Linked DNA regions of Homo sapiens: region 1 is linked to region 2. Evidence: fine-mapped expression QTL. Tissue or cell type: whole blood. Region 2 holds a variant in brackets; the other region holds the start of a gene. All regions are shown on one strand. Distances are from middle to middle.

Region 1 (8,089 bases), 30 kb before region 2:
TTAAATAGACCCTTAACCCTATACTACCTCCTTCCTCAACACTGCTTCCTGCAGGTGAATACGGTGATTTACAGCCTTTAAGACATTTTTATAAGGAGTGGCTGAAATTTGATATGGAGACATTCTCTTGGTTTAGTTTTCAAAGTGCTGGAAAATTCCTTTAACTTTTTCAACCAACTTGCTCGGTGAATTCCAGGTGCCAGTCACTGGGGTAGGTGCAGGGAACAGTCCCTCCCTCCACAAACTCTAAAAGCAGCAGTGTTTCAGGTGGTGTTTCAGTTCACTAGCGAATTTATTAAAATGTGTATTGATTGAGCATCAATTGCCTTCCAGGGCCAGGTACTTGGGAGACATAAGAGAAACAAAACACAAAGATTCCTGCCCTCATGAGGCTTCTTCAAACATTTACTGAGTAGAAGAATGTGCTGAGAAAGGGACAAGGCACTGGGTGAGGTGTTGAATGAGGTTAGGACCTGCTCCCTGACCCTAGGGAATTTTTAAATTACTAGAGATGATGAGAGTCAAATGAGTCCGTTAGTCATTGTCAGGGGCTAAACTGCATCGAAGAGGCCAGCAGGGTGGTAGAAACTCATATGAAGGAGCAGGAAAGGTCTCCCCAGAGGGAGAGGATTAGAAGGGGGTGTGCCTGGGCTGCACCTCATGGAATCCCTGAGTCCTGCACAGAATTCCAAACCTGCACAGATGAGGGGTTGGAGGGCTTTTCAAGTGGGCAAACTCAGTGAGCAATGAAGTGGAGAATAGCTGGTCATGATATGCTTACAGGATGTTGCTTCTGGCCTCACCAGGGAGGGGAATTCATTCATTCTTCTGCGACTCAGTGCCTTCTTCAGTGCCCATTGTGTGCTAGGTGCAGTGGTGTTCACCAGGCACAGTGGTGAACAACACAGAAGAAGCTGCTTCCCCATGGAGCTAACACCCTAGAGAAGGAAACTGCACCATCAAACCTGTAAATAAGCCACACACAGGGCAACAGGAGCTAAAGGAGGCGGGAGAGCTACTGTAAAAAGGGTGGTAAGTGTGTGTGTGTGTGTGTGGCGGGGGGCAGGATTTGGACTTGTGGAGATAGAAAGTAGGGAGCCGTGGCAGGTCTCTGGGTAGAGAAAGCAGTGGTTATGAAAGGTTAGTCTGACAGTGATTGGGACGGCAGGAGCTTGGAGTTAAGGAGACCAAATAGGAGTGGATTCTAACTATTTAGGTGTAAGAAGGTTCCAGACAAGTGGGCGTCTGTGGGAAAAGAGAGAGAAGATGTTAGAGGGATTTATTTAGAAGGGAAAATCCATTGGGCTTGGTGATGAATTGGATATGGTTATAAAGAAGGTGAAAGAATGAATGACTCTGCATTTACAGAAGGGCAGATGAACGATGTGGTGGGTTGCCATATTGAGACATCCATGTAGAAAGGCTTAGTAGGTGGATGAAGAAATGGACAAAGAGCTCAGGTGAGAGAAGCAGACAGGGGGTAAAATTTGGAGAATCAAAAAGCATGCTCCAGGAAGTGATTAAACTTCCTGATGGTAAAAAAGTAGAAAGAAGTGTAAAAATTCTAGGTGAGCCTTGAACACCCGCTGAATAAATGGAGAGGTATACCATGTTCATAAATGGGACATTTTAATATTATAAAGATATCCACTCTTCCTAAATTTAACTATATATGTCATTAATGTGTTTCCTGAGGTTAGATACATTGATTCCAGAATTCATATGGAAGTGTAAATGTTCCAGAATAGTCAAAGCAACTTTGGACTAGGACTACAGGTGCACACCACCATGCATGGCAAATTTTTTCTGTAATTTTCATAGAGACGGGGGTCTCCCTATGTTGCCAGGCTAATCTTGAACTCCTGGGCTCAAAGGATCCATCTGCCTCGGCCTCTCAGAGTGGTGGGATTACAGGTGTGTGCCACTGCGCCTGGCCAACAGGCACCAAACCTGACTCATGTTTGTGTCGTCCCAGGCCAGGCACTGTAGCTTGTGTGAAAATTGTCAGAATCGAAATGGAGCCGCTAATGTTAAGAAAACCCTGACAAACAGAGCCGGGGAAGGCCATGAAGAGAGGGTTCTTGCGCGTGCATGCCTGATAACAAAAAGGACTCTCTGGAAAAACCGCAACCTTGCACAAAGGCCACTGCAATCTCCCACAAAAAACTAGTCCTGCAAGGACATGGCCCAGCCACTGGCTGTCCTACTTTGAACTGGCATCGCCTTCGTTATGGATCTTTGTAGCCACAGATAATTATTTTCAAACAATTGTGCAATCCGCCTCATTTTTTTTAAAGCCTTTGCTTTCCTTGCCTCTCTGAATATGCACAAGTTTACCATGGCATGCATATTTCTACTGCAAAGCTCTATTGCAAAATAAATATCTGTTTCTTTTAGAGATCCTCTCTGTTATTTAGGTTGTCACTTGCATGCAACAGGCATTGAATAAATGCTGAATTGACTTAAATTTGTTCTGAGGATGAGGCAGTGCTGGCTGAGAAGGAGCCGGGGTCTCCTGGTGCGCTTTCCACGCCCCAGAAGGTCCGCTTCCACCTCAGCCCCACACTGCTCGGTCTCAGCAACCTGACATGCCAGGGCTGAGCAGGTACGAAATACCTTGGCATTCCTGCCTTGTCGGAGTCTCAGGGCACCTACGAAGGAGGCAACGGGCCTATTTCCCTTTACAGGACACCTTCAGGACACGGGTTTTAACCTGCTCAGGGTCTCATCGCCTTTCCCAGCCAGGCCAGCGGCCAGAGTGACACTGTCCCCCAGGGTTTAACTTAGAGTCCATTCTACCTCTCATTTTCTCTAAAAAACCCCAACCAACCAACTAACCAAATTCTACACGCTGCATATTTTAAAAGCATTTCAAGGTTTATCCTTTAAAACGGAAGGAGGACCTGGGAGGCCGAAGCGGGTGGATCACGAGGTCAGGAGTTCGAGACCAGCCTGGCCAACATGGTGAAACCCCGTGTCTACTAAAAATACAAAAATTAGCCGGGCATGGTGGCACATACCTGTAATCCCGCCTACTCGGGAGGCTGAGGCAGGAGAATCGCTTGAAACCGGAAGGCGGAGGTTGCAGTGAGCCGAGATCGCGCACTGCTCTCCAGCTTGGGCAACAACAGCAAAACTCCGTGTCAAAAATAAAAAAAAAAAAAAAAAAAGAAGGAGGAAATATTTCTCAAGTAGCGACTGCAACTTCCATAGTCAAATTTTCATTCCAAGCTATAAATGGAGATGACTGTCCACTTTTCAGGACAAAAAGCTTCTTGCAAAAGTAGAAGAGCAAAAGCAAAATCCTCCACTAGAAAGCGCCCCCATCTCTAATCTGTAACAGTGAGAGCCTCAGGACGAGTTCCGCAGACGCTCATTTAAAGCAAACTTTTTCAATGACCTTGAGGGTGGCTGTACTTACACGCGGAGAAGCAAATCGACCGCAGCTGGAAAGGCGCTGGGTCGAGCGTGAGAGGAACACGGGTTTTACCTAAGGGAGAGTGGAAGAGAGAAGGGGGTTCCCCAAGGGCCCCGGCCCCTTCGCCTCGTTCGGGCCCCGCGGCCAAGCTCCTCGCACCGCAGCCCCGGCTGTGCAGAAGCGGAGGGGCGGAAGGTGCTCTCAGAACTTTCATTTTCCACCCTGCAGCAGTCCCGAGCCTCGGCTGGAGAACTCGGATGCTTGCGAAACGGCGAGGTCCAGCAGGGGCGGGACGGGGGCGGTGGGCGGAGGAGGATAGGGCGGGGCCGCGGCGGTGAAAGGGCCCGGGGGCGGGGGCGGGGGCGGGGCGAGGCGAGGCCGCCGCGGTCCGGGCCCCCGACGTGGGCTCCGTGCTCTGCACCCAGCTCCTTCCCGGGCGCGCACACGCGCTTCCTCTCTTGAGCTCCCGGGCGTCCGGAGGCGAAGGTCCCGGAGCGTTCACGAGAATCCGGGTCCCGGCGAGTCCGGGGTCCGCTCCTCCAGCTGCGCCCAGGGCGCACGAGCCGGCCAGCCTCGGGGAGAGGGCGCGGGGGCGCTGGGGGTTCTTACGGGAAGATGAGGAAGCCCGACAGCAAGATCGTGCTCCTGGGGGACATGAACGTGGGGAAGACGTCGCTGCTGCAGCGGTATATGGAGCGGCGCTTCCCGGACACGGTCAGCACGGTGGGCGGCGCCTTCTACCTGAAGCAGTGGCGCTCCTACAACATCTCCATCTGGGACACCGCAGGTGAGGCCGGCGCCGCATGAGCCACACCGCCCTGGGGCTCCGCCGGGGACGGGGGGCGCGGGGCTTCCAGCAGGGCACCCGGCCGCGCACAGGGTCCCGGCCTCGGACAGCAAATGCCTCCTTCTCGGGGTTTCCCACTCGTCCTCCCTTGCTGGTTGGGCTGAGCGCTGCCTCTCAGCCACTCAGTGACCTCAGGGACAACCCAAGTTGCAGAGAACCCGCTGGTCATTTGTGTACCTAAGCTGCCTTTGCTCCCGAGCCCCGCGTTCCTGCTCTGCCGCCCTGGGAACCAGAGACGCTCCTCTGTGGCTGCTTTGTTAGGTATTTTCAGTTTTCACGTACCCGTAGGAACATGATATCCTTTGAGATTCACTTGAGGGGTGAGCAGAGCTGGTGTTATTAGCCCCTTTCTAAGAAAAAGTAAAATGAGGCACAGAGTGTTCCCCCCTGTTGGGTTTAGTCAGGAGAGAGGAAATAAAACTGGAGCCTCCGGACCTCTTAGCCCGGAGCATATCTGCCTTTTACAGTTAATCTTCTGCTTGATCTTGGCTCAGATACGTCATATGGGTTTGGGTTGGAGTGACTTCCGGTGGAAGCATTTTTAAGATAGGTAATGAGTTATTTTTATTGTGTAGTATTTGTGACTTTTCAAAAGTACAACTTAGAGGATCTCAATTCAGGCTTTCTGTTTAACTTTGGAAAATAACACTGGTGATTGTAGCATTGCAATGGAATATATTTCCTTCTCCTTACAAAAGAATAAGATATTGTAAGTGAATGAAGAAACTGGAAATAGTGTGACACATTTTCAATGAGTGTGAGTTTTTAGAAGCCTGAAACTCTGAAAGTTCTGACTTCTTTTATGTTAGCATCTTAAAAAGTCATATACCCAAAGGCCCCGTCCAGAATTCTTAAATTGCCATCTTGGGTGTATCAGTATGCTGAATAAACAAGATGATAATGAATTCTCTCTTTAAAACTGAATTAACGAAGCTCACAGAGGTACTTCCAGTTCTCCCCCTCCCTTTTGCCTTCTTTGATGCTTTTTTATTATTATCCCAGTTAACATCGTGACTAATTTATTGGCAATCATCTTGTGAAAACAATGTCCCCCAGGTAAAGAGGTGCATTTCCCTGATCTTTGCTCCAACTCTGTCTTCTGCCTCAGGCTGCAGGATGAGGTTTACTGAGCTGACTCCCTCACACTGAGCATTTGGTAACGATGGAACACACGCTCTAGAAGTCAAATCGAACCCAATTCACGAACCCAATTTGCTTCTGTACAAAGTCAAATTGAACCCAATTTGGTTTTGTACAAAGCTTTGCCCCTCTGCTGCTTTTGCTGGTTGGCTGGGATTTACTGCTGCCCTTGGTTTACAAGTAGCAAGGTTAATGCAGGAGTGTTATTGGGGGACCCTAACCGAAACCCCTGTAGTGGCCACCGTTGGAGGCAGACTCTTAACACACGGTGTGTTTCTGGAACAAGAGCTGCCCTGCAGTGCTGGAACGGCCCCTGCATCGGAGGGAATGAAGCAGCAGTTTCGTTTCCACTGGCCTCTTGCTTCTTCAGCACCAAGGACGTGATGCAGCCGGAATCCTGATCACCAGAGATTTTGCAGTTGTGCTGATGTGACGCCCCAGATGTCTTGAAGCGTTACTGGGGGGCAGCAGCTCATTTCCTGGCATCCGAGGCTGCTGCTGCTTGTTCGAAAGATCCTAAGGGTGAATTACTAGAGCTCCTCAGAACAGAGAGTGGCCAGGCCCCTTCTCCACATTCCTGACTTCCTGTGTACACACTCAGGCGGCCCTTGCCCAGAGTTGGCAGGGACACAGGGCACCCTTGCCTGCCTCCTCGGTGGCCTGTGGCCTGACCGGGTACTTGAAGGGAAAAGAGAGGTAGGAACAGATACCTTTTCTATAATTGTTGGAAATTCAGAATTTAACATTTAGGGGACCCTGTTCTTTTCCTTCTTTTGCTGAGCTCCTAAACTTTCTCTCCACCCCACAGACATTGCTTTTCAAGTTGTTTTTGTTGTAATTGTCATAACCGAGGCAGAATGGTAAGGACCAGCCGGAGGAGGAACCATTTTGAAAGTTGCTTTTAGCCACACAAGGCAGGGTGGGCTGGGGTGGGGGTGCAGGTGTGCAGAGGGCGACAGGATGTTTAATAGTAAAAACGATTGCATGGGGGTCAGTGTACACCCAATGCCTGGCTGCTTGTAGCCTGCAAGGCAGGCAGTGGATGGAGCTGAAGAGGGGGAAGAGAGTTGGCAGGGCAGAAGTACATTACCCTATTCCATTGACACAACAGTCCTCCAGAGGGAGGTGTGATTATTTGCATGTTAAAGATGGGGCCAGGCGTGGTGGCTCATGCCTGTAATCCCAGCACTTTGGGAGGCTGAGGTGGGTGGATCACGAGGTCAAGAGATCAAGACCATCCTGGCTAACATGGTGAAACCCCATCTCTACTAAACATACAAAAGTTAGCAGGGCGTGGTGGCGCACACCTGTAGTCCCAGCTACTCGGGAGGCTGAGGCAGGAGAATCGCTTGAACCAGGAGGCAGAGGTTGCAGTGAGCCAAGATTGTGCCACTGCACTCCAACCCGGTGACAGAGCGAGACTCTGTCTCAAAAAAAAAAAAAAAAAAAAAAACAGATGGGAAGACAGGGCTGCGCGGTGGCTCATGCCTGTAATCCCAGCACTTTAGGAGGGTGAGGCGGGCAGATCACCTAAGGTCAGGAGTTCAAGACCAGCCTGGTTAATGTGGTGAACCCGTGTCTACTAAAAATACAAAAATTAGCTGGGTGTGGTGGCTGGCGCCTGTAATCCTAGCTACTTGGGAGGCTGTGGCAGGAGAATCGCTTGAACCCTGGAGGCGGAGGTTGCAGTGAGCCAAGATTGCGCCATTGCACTCCAGCCTGGGTGACAAGAGTAAGACTCTGTCTCAAAAAAAAAAAAAAAAAAAAGTGGGAAGACAGCAGAAGTTAAGTGGGATTTAGACCTTGGTTCATCCAACTCCAACTCACCTTGTCTCATTATGCCCTTTTAGGGGGCACTTGCCACTCCCAGCCCTTGTCTAATTGGGCACACAGATGTGGAGTGGTTGCTGTGCATGGGTGGGTACATCCAGGAAGCAAAAGGAGGTTGCCCAGCGAGGAGGCAGAGCCCTAGAAGACGTACTGCTGTGCTCCTCTGTGTTGCCCGGTTGCTCAGGACAGCCTAAAGTGGTGTTGCCTGTTGTTGGCAAATATAAACTGAGGCTCCCCGGTGCCGGGCACTGTTTGGGCCCTCGTTCTACAGCAGTGAGCAGGCCGGCTGGCCGCTGCCCCGCAGGCCCTGGATTCCAGAGGAGGGGGAAAGGCAGGCAAGAAGTGAATGGTACAGCTTCACATCTGATCGTTGCTCTGAAGAAAATACGACAGGCTGATGAGAAAGCGGCTGGTGTGCCCAGCACAGACCTGGTCCCCAGAGCCCTGGAGACAGAATGCTCTCCACATTTGTTTTCCTTCCCTTCTAAAGGCCGTGGCCTGGCGGCCGGGAGGCGGGGGGAGCAGGGGCATTACCTGACTCACGTTTGCATCCCCAGCACCTGGCCCTTGAAGAGCCAGCTTGGAAGGCGGCGGGGAGCCCAGACTTGCGCCACTTCCCTGTGCCGGCATCCAGCTCCAGCTGCGTCTCTGGGGACTGGGTGTTGGAGAGAGTGAGTGCATTTTGCATGTGGAATGGATGCACGTCTGTGGGAGCCTGAAGCCAGGCTGTGACAGACAGAATAGTGGCCACCGCAAAGATGAGACATCTTGGTCTCTTGAGAGTCCTCTGGCCTTTGGGTCCTTCTGAGGCACCAGCAGAAGGTTATGTGGCCACACCAGGGCCTCCTCTCCAG
Region 2 (8,103 bases):
AAACAGAAAGTGCTGTTTCCTGCCCTCTGGTTCACCTTCAAGGAGAGAAATGAAATCCATTTCTGTGTTGGAAGGCCTTGCGCGGCCGGAGCTTTGGGTACTGCTGCTGGGCTGAGAGCATGGTGTGGTCCAGTGGGCGCTCAGAGGCGCTGGGCCAGCCACTGCGTGGAAGGCCTGGGCCCAGCGTGCCGGGTGTGTGCGGTGCTTCACGGCTGCCTGTGAAAAGTTAGTCACTGCACAGGCATTTAATGGAAGGGCCCAAGCTGTGAGGCACTCAGAGCAGGCAGGAGGAGGAGAGGTGGAATCTAGGGAATGGGTTCCAATCTCGCCAGTAGAGTCTCTGAGCCTTGACTTGTAGATCTGCGAAAATGGAAAACAGAGACTTCCCAGAGTGGTTTAAGGATCCATGAAGACGTGACCCACGAAGTGGTTGTATGAATTAGCCTCATGTGTTATTTATTCGTTTCTGTAACTTCACGCCTCCTTCATGCCTGTTCCAAGCAGCCCGTGAGTGTCTGCTGTGGTCCAGGAACTGTACCTGGTGTTCAGGGTGGGTTCGGGTTGGGGGTCTCCGGCTCTGAGCAGAGTCTGCTCTGTGCCATCCAGCATGGTAGCCACTGGCCACACGTGGCTTGGACTTAGAGATGTGGCTAGTTCTAGGTGAGATGTGTGCTTTTCAAAATGAGGAAGAATTCTGAATTTAAATTTCTCACTACATTCTCCATCTCTGCCAGTAAAAGATGTTCCTGGGCTGGGCGTGGTGGCTCAGGCCTGTAATCCCAGCACTTTAGAAGGGCAAAGCGGGGGGATCACTTGAGCTCAGGAGTTTGAGACCAGGCTGGGCAACTTAGTGAGACCTCATCTCTACTAAAAATTAAAAAATTAGCCAGGCGTGGTGGTACACACCTGTAGTCCCACCTGCTTGGGAGGCTGAGGTGGGAGGATCGCTTGAGCCCAGGAGGATGAGGTTGCAGTGAGCCATGATTGAGCCACTGCACTCCAGCCTGGGTGACAGAGCGAGACCCTGTCTCTGTTTCCACAAAAAAATATTGCTGGATATGTCTTCTGCTCTTCGTTTTGGAAATCATATTTTTCCTATTTTACTGTTTAGTTGCTGAACAGCTGGCAGGAGAGGACTTGTGCATTTATGATGAGGTCCAGTTTTGTGGAGTTCACACTCTTTTGAAGCCTGCTAGGAAGCCCCCTGGGGTGCACAGTAGAGGGTGTTCATATTGGATCAGCATTTGGAAAGATAACTGCCCGGGCAAGGAACCCTCAATGAAGAAGTGACCAGTTTGGGTCAAAGTGATCCTTGCAGTTTTCTGAAAAGCCCCTGTCATGCCACTTCCCCTGCCCTGGACATTTGTTTGGCTGAGGGGCAAGGCAGGGGTCGGGGCGTGGTCGGCACCCTTGACCGGCACACTCGTACATCACGGTGGCAGCACCTCTTTGTAGGGGCTCGGCCTCAGGGGACAGCCTGAAAATGGGGGAGCTGTACAGGCCTCTCTGGAGAGCCTCAGCTTTGCAGACAGCCTCCATCCCAGGGAAGCAAGTGAGCAGTCCACGTGAATAAGGCAGCCAGGCTTCCCCAGAGAAACAGACCTGACAGAGGGTGTGTGAGCTCAGGCAAGGTTGCTTTGTTGCTGTCTGGGGGCTGAATTCCTTCGTGTCTGGAAGAGCTCAGTCTTTACTTCTCAGGCCATCAGCTGATTAGACGAGGCCTACCACATCACAGAGCACTGTCTGCTTTCTCACATCCACTGATGTAAATGCTGATCCCACCTAAAAAACACCTTCCCAGCCATGTCCAGGCTAGTGCAGGACCAAACTGCTGGGCACCGGGGCCCGACCAGATACAGTTCCCCATCACGGTGGGTGGAGGCTGGCAAGCCATTGGCTCTCTGGAGGCTTTGGTGCATGTGGGTTCTGGGGGGAGGGCCTGCCCACTGCGTGGGGCCCTTGCCTGCTAGCTCTCCACTTTCCACGTACTGGTGGGGGCAGGTGTGTCCAGCCAGGCCCTGTGCTGGCTCCAGGCAGCCCAGCTCCATTCATGCACCCAGGGACTCTTGTGGGCCTTCCTTACTGCACTAAAATCAACAAACAATTGAATACAGTGTTGGTTATAGTAGTCAATTATTTATTCTTTTCTAATGCTCCTGAGGGGATGGTTGCTTCCACATCCCATTCTCTCTTTTTGAGATAGGGTCTTGCTCTGCTGCCCGGGCTAGAGTGCAGTGGCAGTATCCCAGCTCACTGCAGCCCAACCTCCTGGGCTTAAGCGATCCTCCTGCCTCAGCCTCCTCAGAGTAGCTGGGACTACAGGCACATACCATCATACCCAGCTCATTTTTAAATTTTTTTTTGTAGAGATAGGGACTCACTGTGTCACCCAGGCTGGTCTCAAACTCAGGGGCTCAAGGGATCCTCCCACATCAGCCTTCTGAAGTGCTAGGATTACAGGTATGAACCACTGTGCCTGGCCTCCACGCACCATTATTTAACCAAGTTCACTATCGGTTTTAAAAAAACAAACCTAGAGGGAATGTAGATCATGCCTGTGGAGATGGTCCCATGACTCTCAACTTTAGCCAAAACTCATCAACTTTACAAAATAGAACTAAAATAACCTTTTGGCTCGTATTTGTGGATGCAACCTGCAAACACTGGAGAAAGCATGTCGTGGTGTTTTTGAACAATCTCTGATGGGAAGTGTGTCACAGCTCCTCTAGGCTGCGCTGCTGCTGGTGCCATTGCTGGAGTTGCTTATTTTGCTCCCATCTCTGGTCTGGGAATATGCACTTTTCCTTTCCTCAGGTTGTCACATCGATGTTTTGTGAGCTCCCTGCCAGGGGGCTGTCCGATCTGGCAAGGCAGAGAACTCATCTTAAAAGTTTCTGTTCTCCGCTGGGCACAGTGGCTCATGCCTGTGACCCCAGCACTTTGGGAGGCCAAGTTGGGAATATAGCATGAACCCAGGAGTTCAAGACCAGCCTGGGTAGCATAGTAAGTCCCCATCTCTACACAAACATAAAAGAAATTAGCTGGGTGTAGTGGTATGCACCTGTGGTCCCAGCTACTCGGGAGGCTGAGTTGGGAGGAACACTTAAGCCCAGAAGATGGAGGCTGCATTGAGCCATGATCGTACCACTGCACTTCAGCCTGGGTGACAGAGCAAGACTCTGTCTCAAAAAAATAATAATTAAATAGGCTGGGCGTGGTGCCTCGCGCCTGTAATCCCAGCATTTTGGGAGTCCAAGGTGGGTGGATCACTTGAGGTCAGGAGTTTGAGACCAGCCTGGCCAACATGGTGAAACCCTGTCCCTACTAATAGTACAAAAATTAGCTGGGCTTGGTGGTGTGTGCCTGTAATCCCAGCTACTAGGGAGGCTTAGGCAGGAGAATTGCTTGAACCCTGGACGTGGAGTTTGCAGTGAGCTGAGATTGCATCACTGCACTCCAGCCTGGGCAACAGAGCAAGACTCTGTCTCAAGAAAAAGTAAATAAATAAATAATGAAAGTTCCTGTTGTCTCAGTGTTTGCATTTCCTGGTAGGGCTCACTTTTCAATGAATTGAAATACCAAGCTTTCTAATTCTTACATTTCAATAGCTGCCCTTTTATTTCCCACTTTCACTGGGTAAATTGCTGATTTTCACTCCTGGTGCACCTGGTATTCACCTGGGGCGCTTTTAAAGCTGATACAAATGCCAGCCCCACTCTTGCCCTGGCAGCTGGGTCAGGGTCTGAGCATCAGTATTTTTTAAGTCTCCCCACCCCATGCTTAAGATGTGAGCCAAGGGTGTCCGTGGCTTCTGATGGCTATCTCAACCCACTCTTATTTAAACCAATAGTGAAAACGACACAACACTTGGGGTAGAAGCCTGGCTGTGTTTGGCTTTGGGAAGGCTGAAGAGTGAAATGGAAAGCACTTGGGCAGTTTTTGGTTCCGCAACAGTGAATCAGGATTACTGTGGGTGCTGACTTCCCTTCCCCTTCTGCCTGAACCCTGGGCCATGTCAGCTCCACTGATCTGGCAACATCCGGAGCACCCCCAGGACCAGGGAGAAGGTCATCATCTGAGAATAAGAAACGTAGAAGATTGGTCCACTGCAAAAGCGCCCAGTCGGCCCCAGGAGGTGGTGTGTAAATGGAGGGATGATGAGACCCGGGACATGGGCAGCCCTGGGACGGTGGCATCCATCCTTAGGTTTGGGAGGAATCTCACGATTTATGGAACAAGCACTTCTATTACAGGGCCTAATGTGCTGGGTGCAGCTCCAGCCAGTT[C/T]ACCTGTGTGCAGATTCTGCTTTCTCAGCCACCCTTTGGCAGGTGTAACCCACATTTTAGTGACGGGGAAACTGAGGTACCGCATGTCTAAGTGACTTGCCCAAGGTCACACGGTGGGGATTTGAATGTAGTCTGTCTCTAGAGTGGGGGCTGTTTACCAGAACGCTCTGCAGTCCCTGCCCAGCGAATTAGCCGGCACTTCCAGGATAGTTCTCTGCGTAAAATTTGGAGCTCCTGGGAAGGTGGCTGCATTCTGCAAATGCCTGTGCTCTGTGGGATCACAGGGTGGAGGCAGGCTTTTCTCCTGCCCAGCAGCCCACCTCAAAGGGGCCCTAGGCCCCTTCCTCTGCCTCTGGGGGTGGTTAGACCAGACTCCCTGGGGTGCCTGTTGCCAGCGTGCTTCTCAGGGCTCCACCGCTCCTGTGTCTGTTGCCCACCTCCTTCTCCATCTGTGCCTCAGTTCCTCCTCCTGTAAAACATGGGAAAGGGAAGCCTGCACGAGCATAATAAACCCTGAGGACTCACACTGTGCTGGCCATGCTTCTTCCCATAGCTAATGCAGCGCTTCCTATCCTTGATACAGGACGGGATCGTGGAAGTTAACAGCTCATTCCCTGCTATAAATTACGAAGTCCTGTTCTGGCTTCCATTTCTCTTGTTTAGACAGAACTTAAACCTCATAAAGTGAGTGGAATTAGCTCTTTAGGTGAACAGACACAATTGTGTTTTTAGATCTGTAAATTCGAGAAACAAACCTGGTGGGACCTGCCTCCTGAGGGCCCTGTGTCTGTGTAGAGGTGGGGTGGGTGGGACCTACTTCCCCAGGGTCCTGTGTCTGTGTAGAGGTGGAGCGGGTGGGACCTACTTCCCTAGGGCCCTGTGTCTGCGTAGAGGTGGGGCGGGTGGGACCTACTTCCCCAGGGTCCTGTGTCTGTGTAGAGGTGGGGCGGGTGGGACCTACTTCCCCAGGGTCCTGTGTCTGTAGAGGTGGGGCGGGTGGGACCTACTTCCCCAGGGTCCTGTGTCTGTGTAGAGGTGGGGCGGGTGGGACCTACTTCCCCAGGGTCCTGTGTCTGTGTAGAGGTGGGGCGGGTGGGACCTACTTCCCCAGGGTCCTGTGTCTGTGTAGAGGTGGGGCGGGTGGGACCTACTTCCCTAGGGCCCTGTGTCTGCGTAGAGGTGGGGCGGGTGGGACCTGCCTCCCCGGGGCCCTGTGTCTGCGTAGAGGTGGGGCGGGTGGGACCTGCCTCCCCGGGGCCCTGTGTCTGCGTAGAGGTGGGGCGGGTGGGACCTGCCTCCCCGGGGCCCTGTGTCTGCGTAGAGGTGGGGCGGGTGGGACCTGCCTCCCCGGGGCCCTGTGTCTGCGTAGAGGTGGGGCGGGTGGGACCTGCCTCCCCGGGGCCCTGTGTCTGTGTAGAGGTGGGGTGGTGGGACCTGCCTCCCCGGGGCCCTGTGTCTGTGTAGAGGTGGGGTGGTGGGACCTGCCTCCCCAGGGCCCTGTCTGCAGTGAGCAGGGCGTCTTCATTTCTGGCTGCTCTGAACTCACGGTTAAAGTCCTGGTCAGTTTTGCTGCATTTCAGTAGTTTGTCCAACAGTGTGGCTGATCAGACATTGGAGGCGTTCTTACAGATTCAGGTTTCCCTCACCACCAGGGGTAATTGACCTCTTCGTCTGTATGTGTTGGTGACATAAAGCTGAGCAGATCACTTACGGATTTGCTACATAGACGAGTAATAATTCCTGGACAAGTCGAACCTAGAGCCCCAGGCTCCGGTCACTCACCCATCCTCCCGTCTGCTTGGCCTGGAGACAGCCCAGGCAAAAAGGCGGGAGAGTCTGGCGGAAGGCTGGGCTCCTTCCTCAGGCTTGAACCCGTGCCCCCAGCCCTGATGATGTCAGGCCCGTGTTGGTAGTGGCCACACAGGCTCGGCAGCCTGGCTCCGTTCACCAGACCAGGGTTGGCAGCTCACTGACCCTTGGCTGCATTGGTTGAATTTGAACCAATTTGTGATTTTTCTCTTTTGCCCTGTTTCTGGGGCAGCCTGGGGCTCTGGCATCCCCAGAATTGGACCTGAGGCTGTTTATTTCTCCAGGAAAGTCCAGGTAAACCACCAGAACTCTCAGTGCTTTGGCTTCACGATTGGTACTGACGGACTCCGGTCTGGGGGAGAAGGCAATAGAGATAGAGATGCCTGATCCTGTTTCCAGGGAGAGGGACTTTGAAGTACTCAGTTTAAGCCCATACTTGTAGACAGGAAATCAATATTCTGAGAGATACAGGGGCTGACATGTGTATGGGGTTGGCAGCAGGGGGCTGACGGCCCGGCTCAGAGCACATTCACAAACTTCCAGAAAACGCGTGAGGGTCCTTGGATTCAAATACACTGTGAATCTGTCAAAGCCAAGTGCAAAAGGTCAAGTTGTAGTGACACCATTTTATTTTCATTGTCTTATGTTCACTCTCATGCCTTACATACCAGAGCCCCTACTCAAATTCAATTAGGATTAAATTCAGAACTTCTGTTCCCTGCGGGACTGGCCCTTCTTGGTGTGGACAATGCGCTCATTGAGAGCAGCCTGACTCTTCCATTAGCAATCCTAAAAGCTATACATTATCTCCAAAGCAGTATTTTAGAATTTCAAATATGAAAACTGCTTGCTTGTAAATTCTTTAGCTGGGGCAACTGCATTTAATTGGTTTGCATTCATTAATGGGTAGATAACAGATTATAGGGTTCAAGCAACAATTCTTACTTTTTTCTGGCTAGCATTTGTGATTCTTCAGTTCCTGTTTCCTTTCATTACTAAGATCTTTCCTTTTATATTATTATTTCCTTTTTTAGTTTTTTAAAGGCAAATCAGGCATTTTTATCTGGAATGGAAAACTATTTTAGGCATAGGCATCAACACGGTTCTCCCTTTGGCCCTAGTGAACTATGTAACAGAGACTTGAAAACCATTCTTCCAGGGTAGCTGGAGTGCCCCTGACTCCGCATTCCCATAGTCACACTCTTGTGAAATCTGGTGGGTAGAAGCTGATGACGTTTTTAGCTCATGTAAAAACCTCATGATGCCTGGACTGTTATCTATGGGATTAGTGTCCCTGAAACAAAAGTCTTAGTACTGTGGTAATGACGAAGAAGCATTTTTCTTTCTTTTCTGTTTTTTGTTTTTTTTTTTTTTGAGATGGAGTTTCACTCTTGCCCAGGCTGGAGTGCAGTGGCGCTATCTCAGCTCACCGCAACCTCCGCCTCCCAGGTTCAAGCAGTTCTCCTGCCTCAGCCTCCCAAGTAGCTGGGATTATAGGCACATGCCACCATGCCTGGCTAATTTTGTATTTTTAGTAGAGATGGGTTTTCTCTGCGTTGGTCAGGCTGGTCTCGAACTCCCGAACTCAGGTGATCCGCCCACCCCGGCGTCCCAAAGTGCTGGGATTCCAGGCATGAGTCTCCGGCCTTTTTCTTTCCTTTATTATTACCATTTTAAATTTATTTTAGATATGGGGTCTCACTGTTGCTCAGGCTGGAGTGCAGTGGCATGATCATAGCTTATTGCAGCCTCGAACTCCTTGGCTCAAGCAGTCTTCCCTCCTCAGCCTCCCGAGTAGCTGGGACTACAGGCATGCGTCACCATGCCTGGCTAATTAAAGTGTATGTGTGTGTGTGTGTGTGTGTGTGTGTGTGTGTGTGTGTGTGTATTTGTAGAGATAGGAGCCTTGCTATGCTGCCCAAGCTGGGCTCCAACTCCTGGCCTCAAGCAATCCTCCTGCCCTAGCCTGTTCTTTTTGAAGCTAATGCCTGCTGTATTGGGTTTTAAA

Evidence for each region. PIP is the estimated chance that this variant, and not a neighbour inherited with it, causes the effect.
Region 1: RAB20 starts here. The variant in region 2 is fine-mapped to the expression of RAB20 in whole blood (TOPMed, PIP 0.97).

The regions. Positions count from the first base shown.
Region 1 is chr13:110,557,464-110,565,552 of GRCh38, reverse strand. It overlaps RAB20 (RAB20, member RAS oncogene family), which reads left to right and starts at 3,831. Exons shown (of 2, transcript NM_017817.3): 1 at 3,831-4,205. The coding sequence starts at 4,034. RefSeq lists silencers at 3,702-4,151, 4,043-4,232, 4,212-4,271 and enhancers at 7,113-7,635, 7,636-8,089.
Region 2 is chr13:110,527,780-110,535,882 of GRCh38, reverse strand. The region is part of intron 1 of RAB20 (RAB20, member RAS oncogene family); the gene reads left to right. Among named protein-coding and RNA genes, the nearest start is that of COL4A2-AS1, 24 kb to the right of the region's middle. RefSeq lists enhancers at 905-1,687, 4,509-5,125. The variant C/T (reference allele first, on the strand shown) is at 4,287.